Regions from separate parts of the Homo sapiens genome. Here region 1 is linked to region 2. The links come from fine-mapping of genetic effects on gene expression. A gene starts in region 2. The other region holds a variant in brackets. All regions are shown on one strand. Distances are from middle to middle.

Evidence for each region. PIP is the estimated chance that this variant, and not a neighbour inherited with it, causes the effect.
Region 1: its variant is fine-mapped to the expression of TAFA1 in CD8 T cells (CEDAR, PIP 0.92).

What each region holds. Positions count from the first base shown.
Region 1 is chr3:67,668,147-67,673,537 of GRCh38, forward strand. It overlaps SUCLG2-DT (SUCLG2 divergent transcript), which reads left to right. Exons shown (of 7, transcript NR_109992.1): 2 at 1,670-1,763; 3 at 2,683-2,858. Among named protein-coding and RNA genes, the nearest start is that of SUCLG2-DT, 16 kb to the left of the region's middle. The variant T/TG (reference allele first, on the strand shown) is at 2,340.
Region 2 is chr3:68,002,049-68,007,439 of GRCh38, forward strand. It overlaps TAFA1 (TAFA chemokine like family member 1), which reads left to right and starts at 2,199. Exons shown (of 5, transcript NM_213609.4): 1 at 2,199-2,654; 2 at 4,576-4,696. The coding sequence starts at 4,579.

The DNA of each region.
Region 1 (5,391 bases), 330 kb before region 2:
AAACTTCTACTTGTTGTAACAAAAACAACAAATGGCTAAGCTGTGTTGGATCTGTGTTATGTGCAGGCACTGTGCTAAGCAGTTTTCCTGGAAGTGTCTACCTCATTTCGTTCTCTGAATAGCTCTAAGAGGTAAGTGCTATTGCACTGTTACAAAATTAGAAGGAAAACGTACAGAGAAGCAAAGTAGTTTACCTTAGATGGCATGGCTAGGAGGTTTCAGGATTGACATTTTACCTTAGACTCCAGTCTAGAGTAGTTCCTTTTGTTTCTCTGAGGTGCAGCTCTGAGGTAAAAGAAAGGGAAGATTTGGTAGCAAGGGTGTAAATGAGGATTTCATTCCCTCTGCACTATTGTCCTTTTGGGCTGGACCATTCTTTGTTGTGGGGGGCTGTCGTATGCATAATGGGATATTTAGCAGCATCCCTGGCCTCTACTATTATATGCAGTAGCAAATGCCCCCTCCTTTACACTTGTGACAATCAAAAATCTTTCTAGATACTGTATCTTTCTAAATGTTGTAATGCCAAATATCCCCTAGAAGCATGATATGGTTTTGGTGTGTCCCCACCCAAATCTCACCTTGAATTGTAGCTCCCATATCCCCACTTGTTGTGGGTAGTTACTGAATTATAGGGGTGGGTTTTTCCCATGCCATTCTCATGATAGTGAGTAAGTCTCACAAGATCTGATGGCTTTATAAAGAGCAGTTCCCCTGCACATACTCTCTTGCCTGCTGCCATGTAAGATGTGCCTTTTGCCTTCTGCCATGATTGTGAGGCCTCCCCAGCCATGTGGAACTGTGAGACCATTCAACCTCTTTTTCTTTATAAATTACCCAGTCTTGGGTATTTCTTCATAGCAGTATGAAAAGGGACTAATACATGGGGGTGGGGAGGAAGAGTAAAATCTCCCCTGGTTGAGAACCACTATTATAAATATTTGTTCTTAGAGCAGAAATACCGTAACACTTAATATTGCCAATCTCACCTTTTTGACCTTTAATAATCCTAGATATATCTCCTCCCTCCACTAAAAAACCACTAAAAACAACAAAGATTATTGCATGAAATGTTTTATTTTCATATATCTCATCTTTTAGAGTGGATTAATTTTTTAAAATTATAACAAGAGGGAGGCAAAAAGTTTTAACTCATGAAGCAATCATTAAATGAATTAAAATAGTAATTCTCATGTCATTAGTTTGATTTTAGCCAAGCCAATGAAGCACTATTCTAATATTCTGCACAAAATAGCAAATTTCAATTTGAAAATTCTCCAAGCCATTAATGGTCCTGCTATCCATCTGATTTAGTAAGGGTTCAGAGCATTTGTGAGCTAAACTTTCTCAGGAAGTCATTTTTATACTATCAGCATTAGCCTGTGCCATTAAGATCAGCTTTTCCTTGATACAATGAGTTTTTATGTTATTGTCTGTGTCTTGTGGAAAAGTATAATTTTTAATGAAAGAAACCTAAGATTCTTTCATTAGGCTCCAAATTAGGCTCCAAATTCCCCCACTGTGATTTCATCTCATCAGTCTGTGCAAGGGGAGAGTTTGGTATTCCAAAGAAAATCAATTCAAACTACTAAAAACAATTGAAAAGTGTGAAAAATATTTTTTAAATATTTGAGTATGACTCAAAATACATGCTTTATTTATTGGTCAGCGTGAACAACCCCAGAAGGAAAAAGAGTGCTGTTGTTAAAGGTATCTGGCATCATGGACCCAACCATCACCAGGAGTTTCTCACTTCATCTCTGGTGAGTTTCTCTGTTTAGCATTCCTTTCAAAGTAGGTTTTTTCTCAAGGTGGGGAACCTAGGAGCTCCAGTGTCACATCCATACTTCATTATGACCAAAGAGGAAAGATAGCCCTAGCTCAAGTCTCAAAATATCTAAAAGACCCTCATGAGGTCAGCCGGAGTCCCAGGTGTATTCCTGGAAATCTCAGTGGCCAAAGAGGTGGCTGCCATGCCGTTTCAAGTCAGATTCAGGTACAAGAGGTTTTATTAAGGAAATTTTCTTAGTAGAAAATGGTAAGGGTATATGAAGGCAGGATAAAGAAGAGAAAATTCCTGGTCAAAGCTGCAATTTCAGATGAAGTGCCAGCCTTGGGCCACAGAGAGCTTAGAGCATAAATTACATGTCAGAATTTGTCCCCTTCCACAGCAAGGGAGCTGGGCAAAAGCAACATTGTGCCAGTCATTGGTTACAGCTTGCCTTGGTCAGTGGGATGTAAACCCTGGCTCTCTATATGCATGGCAGCCCTGTTAGCTCCAAGGTAATCCTCTGAAGAAGGTTGCAGATACAAACTTTGCAGCAAAAGGAAGAAGTAGT[T/TG]GGGGGCTGGGCACACAGCATTTGGTAGAGGGGATCTGAAAGGGCTGCATGGTGTTCCCTGCACACACCTATTCCTAAGTGTCCAAAATGTTGGGTCTCTATGATTGGCAACCCCAATAAGCACCATGCTTTTGAGCCAGGGAGGAGAGATTTACCAAAAGAGGGACTATCCTGTTGCTCTTTTGAAGAAGAAAGAAGTGATGGGCAGACAAAATCTGTATAGCTTCAGCTGATTTGGACTTACCAAAGTTGACCCCAAGCAAGTTGCATTAAGGTCCGATAAACACACACTTAGAAAAGGACAGTTGCATTTACTGCGCACCTAATACTGTTTTGTCAACAGCTTTATTGTAGTATAATTTGCATACAATAATGGCACACATTTAATGTGCACAGTGTGATAAATTTTGACATATGTATACATCCATGAAGCCGGCACCACAATCAAGATAATGAACATCTCGCTTACCCCAGAAGTTTCCTGTGCCCTGTCACTCCTCCGTATTCCTCCATCCTCAGGTAATCACTCATATACTTTCTATCACTATAGATTATTATGTATTTTCTAAAATGTTATATAAATAGAATCCTAGAGTATATACTCTCCTTTGTCTGTTGTATTTATTTTGAGATTAATTCATGTTGGTTTCTGCATCAGTCGTTCATTCCTTTTTATTGCTGAGTAGCATTCTGTTGTAAAGACATACCACAATTTGTTTGTCTGTTCACCTGTTGATGGCCTCTAACACTTTTACATGTCATGTTGCATTTATCTGTCATATTCTTTTCACACTACTGTGAGGTAAGTCTTATTATGCCCATTTAAGGGAAGATGCATTTAGACTTCAGAGAGAGAAACTAAGTTACCTAATTGCTCAGCTAATAAGAAACAGAGCTTAGATCTCTGTTTTTTAACTCAGTAAAGCCTATGTTTTTTTTCTTACTTCACCATCTTTCTAAGCACAGATCTGCACACAAAGTTAGATACTCATTAGTTGATTTTTATCTACTCTAATTAGCACAACTTACATATTCAGAAAAGCTTCTCCAATTTTATATGCTTACTTTCAGCTTTGATGCTGTATTTATACCACAGTTGGGAAATAACCTATTTTCTTCTCTGTTTTCTCTTCAAAATAATAAACCAGAAGAATTCAGTATCCAAAATTTGGTCGTTTTTACTCTACTATACTGAACAATTAGTCCATTTTACTATCATGCCAAACAGCTCACACTTTAACAAATCAACACTAAGTGTGCTCTATTCAGATGCCTTGAAATTTCAAAGTAAAATGGCAAATGATACTAGATGAAAAACGTTAAGAATTTCAGCAGATTTTGCAGTGATGAAACTTTGTCTTACCTCTTAGAAAATGCCATTGCGCTGACTTTAGTGCCTTAAACTTCTAAATTGCATTTGACTTACATGTTTTCACTTGTGTGTGTACAGTCTCCCCAATTCAGTTGTGAACTCTTTGAGATCATCTAGCAAGCCAACTCTCTATAAAATCTGTATGTCCGAGTTCAAAGCTCTAACTCCACTCAACCCAGATGGTATACATTCAAATCCTGTTGGCCTAACATTTTCAAATGGAAAGAATACAATTAGAAAGATTTTACCTGAATTATAGAAGCCTCATAAAGCAGTGAGAGCCTAGAGGCTAAGGAGTCATGGGGAAGTTAAATAAAGTCTTAGTCATGAAGATCCTGTTGAAGCTCTGTCTGTATCCCCTAAGTGCTTGCCTCTGTAGTCAGCTTACTGAAAACCCTTTAATTCTCTCCACCTAAGGTCATTTCTCTGTCTTTGGAAGCAAGCTTGGCCAGCATGCAGGGCAGGCTAGAAGTGCAGAAAGGTTAATGCTCCAGGAATCAATCCTAAACCAATAACAGAAAGTTGGTAGATAAGTACCTTAGCACCTTTGCTTCTGGGAAGGGGTAATTCTAAAGCTGTTCTACTTTGTTTTGAGTTCCCCCAGTGAGTTGGGTTCTGTTACCCACAGCAGTCAGCTGCTCAATAAATCACCCTTTATTATCTTCCTTCTCTGTCTCATGTCTCAGTTTTTCTCCCTCTGTGTCTTGGGATCACTTCTCAAATAAACTTCTTGCACCAAAATCCCTGTCTCAGAGGCTAATATGGGGGAAAGCCAAAGACAGACGTTAACCACCATGGCACGTCTATAGCGTATTGGGTTAAATATTTTATATACATTAATCCATTCAATCCCCATAATGAAGATAAGAGGTGGGTATTTTTATTCTTATTTGATGAATAAATGAAGTCTGAAAAGTTAAGAAATTTACCCATGTTTACACTTTATGTGGCAAAGTCAGGTGCCCTGCGCCCCCAAGTGAGTGAATCCCAACCCTATGTTTTGTATTTTTGTTTTTTTGGTTTTTTTGAGACAGTCTTGCTCTATCACCCAGGCTGGAGTGCAGTGGTGTGATCTTGGCTCACTGCAACCTCTGCCTCCTGGGTTTAAGAGATTCTCATGCCTCAGCCTCCCAAGTAGCTGGGATTACCGGCACCCACCACCACACCCAGCTAATTTTTGTATTTTTAGTAGAGACAGGGTTTCACCATGTTGGCCAGGCTGGTCTCCAACTCCTGACCTCAGGTGATCTGTCCGCCTTGGCCTCCCAAAGTGCTGGGATTACAGGCGTGAGCGACCATGCCCAGCCTCAACCCTATGTTTTACACACTATAAAAACTCTCAGGCTAGCTCCCTTGGAATTGTGGAGTACAGAATTAACCCAACCTCACCTGTTAGCACTGGAAAATGTCAACATCTTTTTCTTATATTTATGATAGTGCCCAGGAAAGGACTGGGTACATTACAGCTCCCAGTAAAAGCTGGTTAAATTGCAAGGATTTTTTCTTTATTTGTTGTGACTCTTGTGAAACCTTGACCAGCAATTTAGAATGAACATTGGCTTTGCTAGCTGTGTTTGCAGAAGTAATATCAAAATGATATCCTATTCATGTTTCTGCAAGAGTAATGTCTACCATTCATTCTGGCCTCACTGATGGTGTGCTGATAAGATTACTATAAGT
Region 2 (5,391 bases):
AAGTGCAATCCTACTATGGTCAGAAGGTGGAAAGGCTCAACTTCTCTGAAAAATGTGAGAGTAGTTTTGCTTTGAGTTGGGAGAATACACTAAATGGCCTCAAAGATCAATATATGTTGATTCTTACATTATTAGGACAAATGATCATTGGCTGCAATGCAATGGACTGCAAGGTATTTGGAAGAAAAAAATAGAACTATGCTAATATTCTTGCTTCATTACATGCATTTAGAATGATAGTTAAGGCGAGTCTTTATTCCAGTATTTTTTTCTTAATTGTCAGCAATGCCTATCTGAATGCCTTGAATGTAATCCATTAGGTGGTCGATTAAATTGAATTATGGAAGTAACTATCTTGACCCTTATTTTAATCTCTAGAAATGAAAAACATAATGGTTACAGGTTTTCAAAATAGTAGCCTTTATTAGCAAAGGTGAACTTCCTTTTAATTTTAATTCATTAGCATAGCAAAACCACAACCAACAACAATCACGGGGCAAAAGCCATCTTGTATACTTCTATATTTCAAATGCCTGGTGTAATATGTACCTCTAGAAAGAATGAATAATCATTTTTTGAGACTATCTTAATGTTAAAGAAATAAGAAAATATAATAGTTATTTTTTTGGATTTTTTTTCCATTAAATATTTTATCCCAGTGTTTAAGAATGTACTCTTGAGCCAAATCATTTGGGCTTGAAATCTGCTCTGTCTTTTACTACCACACAACCTTGTGCACGTTCTTTAATCTTCCTGTCTCCTCTCACATTCCCCATCTGTGAAACAGAGATAATAATAATACTTATCTTGTGGGGTTGGTAAAAAGAATTAAATTAGACTTTACAAGACATACTATAGAATGTGCTAGCATCTGGTGAAGGTTTGATAAACATTACCTGCTGCCACTGCTGTTATTATTTTTTTATCTTGATGCTGTACAGTCAGTGTAAACTTTCTGTACACACTCATGAACAATAATAATGAGGCACAGATGTGAAACATGCAACACCAACTAGAACTTTGACATTTTTAACTGTGAGATTAATATTTACTATTACTTAGAAATCTGTTTAGAGGTAAGATTTAGAGAACAGTTGTTATGTTACAAAGAGCTATTATGTGTGTTTTGTGCAATGTGAAAGACCAATTGGCAAGACTGACGAGTCTGAAGGATCCCTAACTCTCTCACTGTGTGTAACATGAGAAAACAGAATCACTTGCAAAGATGTGCAGCAGCATTGGACCTTCTTTATTGTGCCTCTGAAAGGCAAGAGAGTATTCTGGGGAATTTCAAAATGTTTCCAAGGAAGCAATATTATGAGAACTACCTTGATTTTGAAAACACCATAAAAGATTAGACAGTATCATCTATAACAGTGGGGATCTCATCAATCACGTTTTCTGCTTTGTTCCCAGGCACCTAACACATAGTAGGTGCTTTATAAGTGATTTGTGAAATAACTGAGGGTATTTCAGAGAATTATTACCAGCACAATCTATAAATGAAAACTAGGTCATCTTGTATTCATCATTGAAATTTAGGCAAAATTATACTATATTTCTGAAGAAGAAAGGGTTCAAACCGTAGTAAGAGGAAGAAGATGTTGAACTTCTGAGTGTTTTCCCTCCCCACCCCAGCATGTTATTTGAAGGAGAGGAAAAATTTTTTAAAAAAGAGCTGTGAGCATATTTCTTCATTTGATGCTGAAAATAACATATTTTTATTTATTAAACATGTTCAAAAAGTTCAGAAGGTTTTTATTGGACTTATGCATATACGCATCTATGTCCTATTCCAGGTAAATTCTAGTCTATTTAACTGCTGAAACAACCAGCAGACTTAAATTAGTATAAACCTGACAATATTTGTGGTTAATTTACTGGTAAAAAGAACATTAAGAGGTAAGAAATGGCTTATATTTCACTTTCCCATTTACTGTTAGAAGTCTAACTCCCACTAATACTATCAGTATTTTGCAGAATGCTTTTTTCTTGTTTCTCCTTCCCTCTTTACTCTTTTGTTAAATCAGTGGTATCAGTAGGACTTCTAATGTAATAAATCAGGCAATATAATGTTAAAGCGCTGCTTGAGTTGTTGAAGAGTTAGTAGGCAGATATTACAATTCACTGTAGCTGTAATAGAGGGTAATGTCACTTTAAGACATGTGATACTTTAGAGCGGAGGGATGTATTGAAACAGACTACTGCTACTTACAGCACCGTATAGCAGCCCTGCTCCTACATTTTGCTGCCTTACTCTGCCCCGAATGCACTGGAGTGGGGATGGTCCATCGGCAACTATAAACTGATTCTCATCAGGAAACTGCACATTATCTCCCCATCACTTCAAAGGTCTCGTCAGGCAGAGGTGACGCCAGGAGATGATTTAAAGGTGAAAATGACAAGGTTTCCACCCCTCAAACCTTGGCTCCTTTTCTGACAATACAGTCTGAATGAACCCGATGTCTTTTTTTTTACTGTGGAAATAGGATCGGAAGAGAGTAACATTTTTTTTTTTTTAATCCTGATAAAGAAGATTGTTGGGAAGCTCTTTGAAAAAAAATTTTAAATTGTGGCACAGATGGATTTTAAAAAGTGTTAGATCTTTCCAATGAACACTAATAGAGTACTCTGCTCTTGGCTGGATTTTTCAGGTAAGAAGCATCTTTAAGGGTTTAAGATTCAGAAAGCAGATCTGAAACATATCCAGGCATATCTAGAGAACTGTGCAAGGCTGAATGCTTTATTTGGGGAAGACGCTTAATAACATTGAGACAACCCCTTGGTAAAGGAGCAAGCAGTGAGAGTGACATGCAGGAGGCTTGGAAGTAATGCTGAGAATTTAAAAAAGTTAAATTAAAAAAATATATATTGCAAGCATAAAATCACAGTAATCCTTTTGAGTGGTAGGATCTATATGGGTGAAGAAATGAGCAAGAGAAAGCAGTCATTGAAAAACTATTAAGTTTTGGTTGTGGCAGGATTTTTTTTTCAAGTTTGGATGAATTTCCAGTACATTTTAACTGCAATTCACAAGCAGTAAATACATCCACAGTCACCTCTGTTTTGTCTTTCTGTAATTTGCAGGGTATTCTGAAAAAGTCCCCAAATACATTCATTTTAGGTTTCACAGGAGGGGTGTTGCTGTTTATTTCCACTGAAGAGAATGCATGTATGTTATCCCAATAGTTCTGAAAACAATAAGGCAAAGTATGTTGTATACAAAAGTAAACAGTGGGCAGTGAAACTAATTAGAAAGTGAATGCTCCATCTGAATCACAGACTTAGGCATGAATAGCACCAAGCTGTTGAAAATAATGTTTTCCTGCTTTGCACTTAATTATAGTTGTCACCATTTGTCTATTATAGTCCTAAAATCCTTCCAAGACTGCATCTCTCTGCTAAAATCCACAAATTAGCGTGCATTATGTGCATACATATGATGTATATTTTTGTTTTCTGAACATCAGTTTTTAATAAAGAACCAATTTTCATGAATAAAGAAGCCAGGCTGGGAGGTTACTAGCACGTTTTCAACGTATAGTTGAGATTTTTGAAGGGTATGATTTGACAGTGAAAAGGAAAAGAAAGAAAGAAATCTTCCAAAGCCCTCTCTGCCTAACAGAAAAGCATACAGTTAACTGGATTCTTGTGTAGAAAATGCTTCCCTATCACTGGCTGAGTAAGGACGGTGCTTCAAGTTTGATTAATTTGGCAATATGAAATGCAGCATAAGGTGTTGTTTGAGAAATTGGACAATATATAGCGCAGTTGAGCCTTTGTAGTTCCTAAGATCCTCATAGGTGCAGATAAGACTGTCAAAGTTTCAGCACCCGAGAAAAGGTACATATTCATCCATAAATACATATGCCACCTGTATATGCATATTCATCAATGCTATACAACAAAAGCTACAATGGAATCTTAGGAGGCTAAGCAATATTGCAAATTATGGCTTGCTCTAGGATAGAAGCATAGGTGTTGCATCTGAAACTCATTCTGGCTAAACACAATCCCTTCTGATTCTTAGGTCCAGTCAAAAGGATCAGTTCTATCAGGAGATTACAACATGCCTCTGAGAAATGATTACTTAGTTTAGAAGACAGCATTGCAATTAAAAATTCATGACTGTAGAATTAAAAAAAAAAAAAGAACCCACTCTTTCCTTCCAGGCTTATGTCAGACTTGCAATGAAGTTAGAATGAACAGGAGGAGTCTGCAGCTTTTCAGTGCCTGGGATAACTATAGTTTAAAGATCATTGTGTAAAATAGGATTTTTAGTCAGCATGCATTGTTTTAAACCGACTAACTGATAGCCTAAAACTTTATTTTTGCATTTTGCCAATCCTTGGAGTTTTGTTTTGCAGAATTAAGAAAAAAATGAATGTATGATCATCTGAAAAGGGCTTTCTCTCAATCCCACTTCATGGCATGACCTCTGCTGGATCATTAGTTCTAGCCAGAGAAGTAGCAAAGGAACATGACGTCTGAGACCTCCCTTCCCTCATCAGTGGGGCTGACTGAGCTGGGGGCTTGAAGCCGGAGGTAACCTTTCCTGTCGAATGTTCTCTTTAGAGAATGGCAATGGTCTCTGCGATGTCCTGGGTCCTGTATTTGTGGATAAGTGCTTGTGCAATGCTACTCTGCCATGGATCCCTTCAGCACACTTTCCAGCAGCATCACCTGCACAGACCAGGTAAGTCAGGAGCTGGCTCCACTGCAGCCTCCTCCAGTCTTACCACTATTTCCTTAACAGATGGTTGAATGCAAGTGACATAAAGTGCTATAGTGTGGGCAGCTTGCCTTTGAATTCCAAGACATATTGTTGGCTGGATGCTTTGGGGGAAGGGGAGTGTGCCAAAATGTCTTGGAGGTATTTCTATTAATTTCTCAGAAAAGGTGTGTTTTTCTAAGTGTCACCCCACCTGCTTCTACACACCTTGAAAAGTAGAAGTCATCTGTTTTTGGATGCTTTGGCCAATAGCAGAATATTCTGCAAAAGTTGGAATAACTTTCAATACTTGAGGATTTTACCTACTATAATCTTGGTCTGTATGTGGCTAAGAATTTTGTGGGGGCATAGTCCCCAAACTAACTTTGGAAGCAAGTTGTCAATGAAAAAGAAATTAAAAAGTAACTTACTATTTCTTGCCTGGTTTAATGTGCCTTCTTTCCTTTCTCCCTTCCTTCACTTTCTGTTCTTCCGGTATGCTCAGTGGCATTTTTCCCTCTCTTTTGGCAGTTTCAGGGACGAAGTCCCTCCCACCTGATTTTTGTTTTGTTTTGTTTTGTTTTTCCTATATTGAATTTTTAGTTCCGGACGCATTTTGCTTTCTTCCTCTTAATGTTCAAAGTATATTTCTCACCCTTCCACGGCCTCGCTCTTCATTC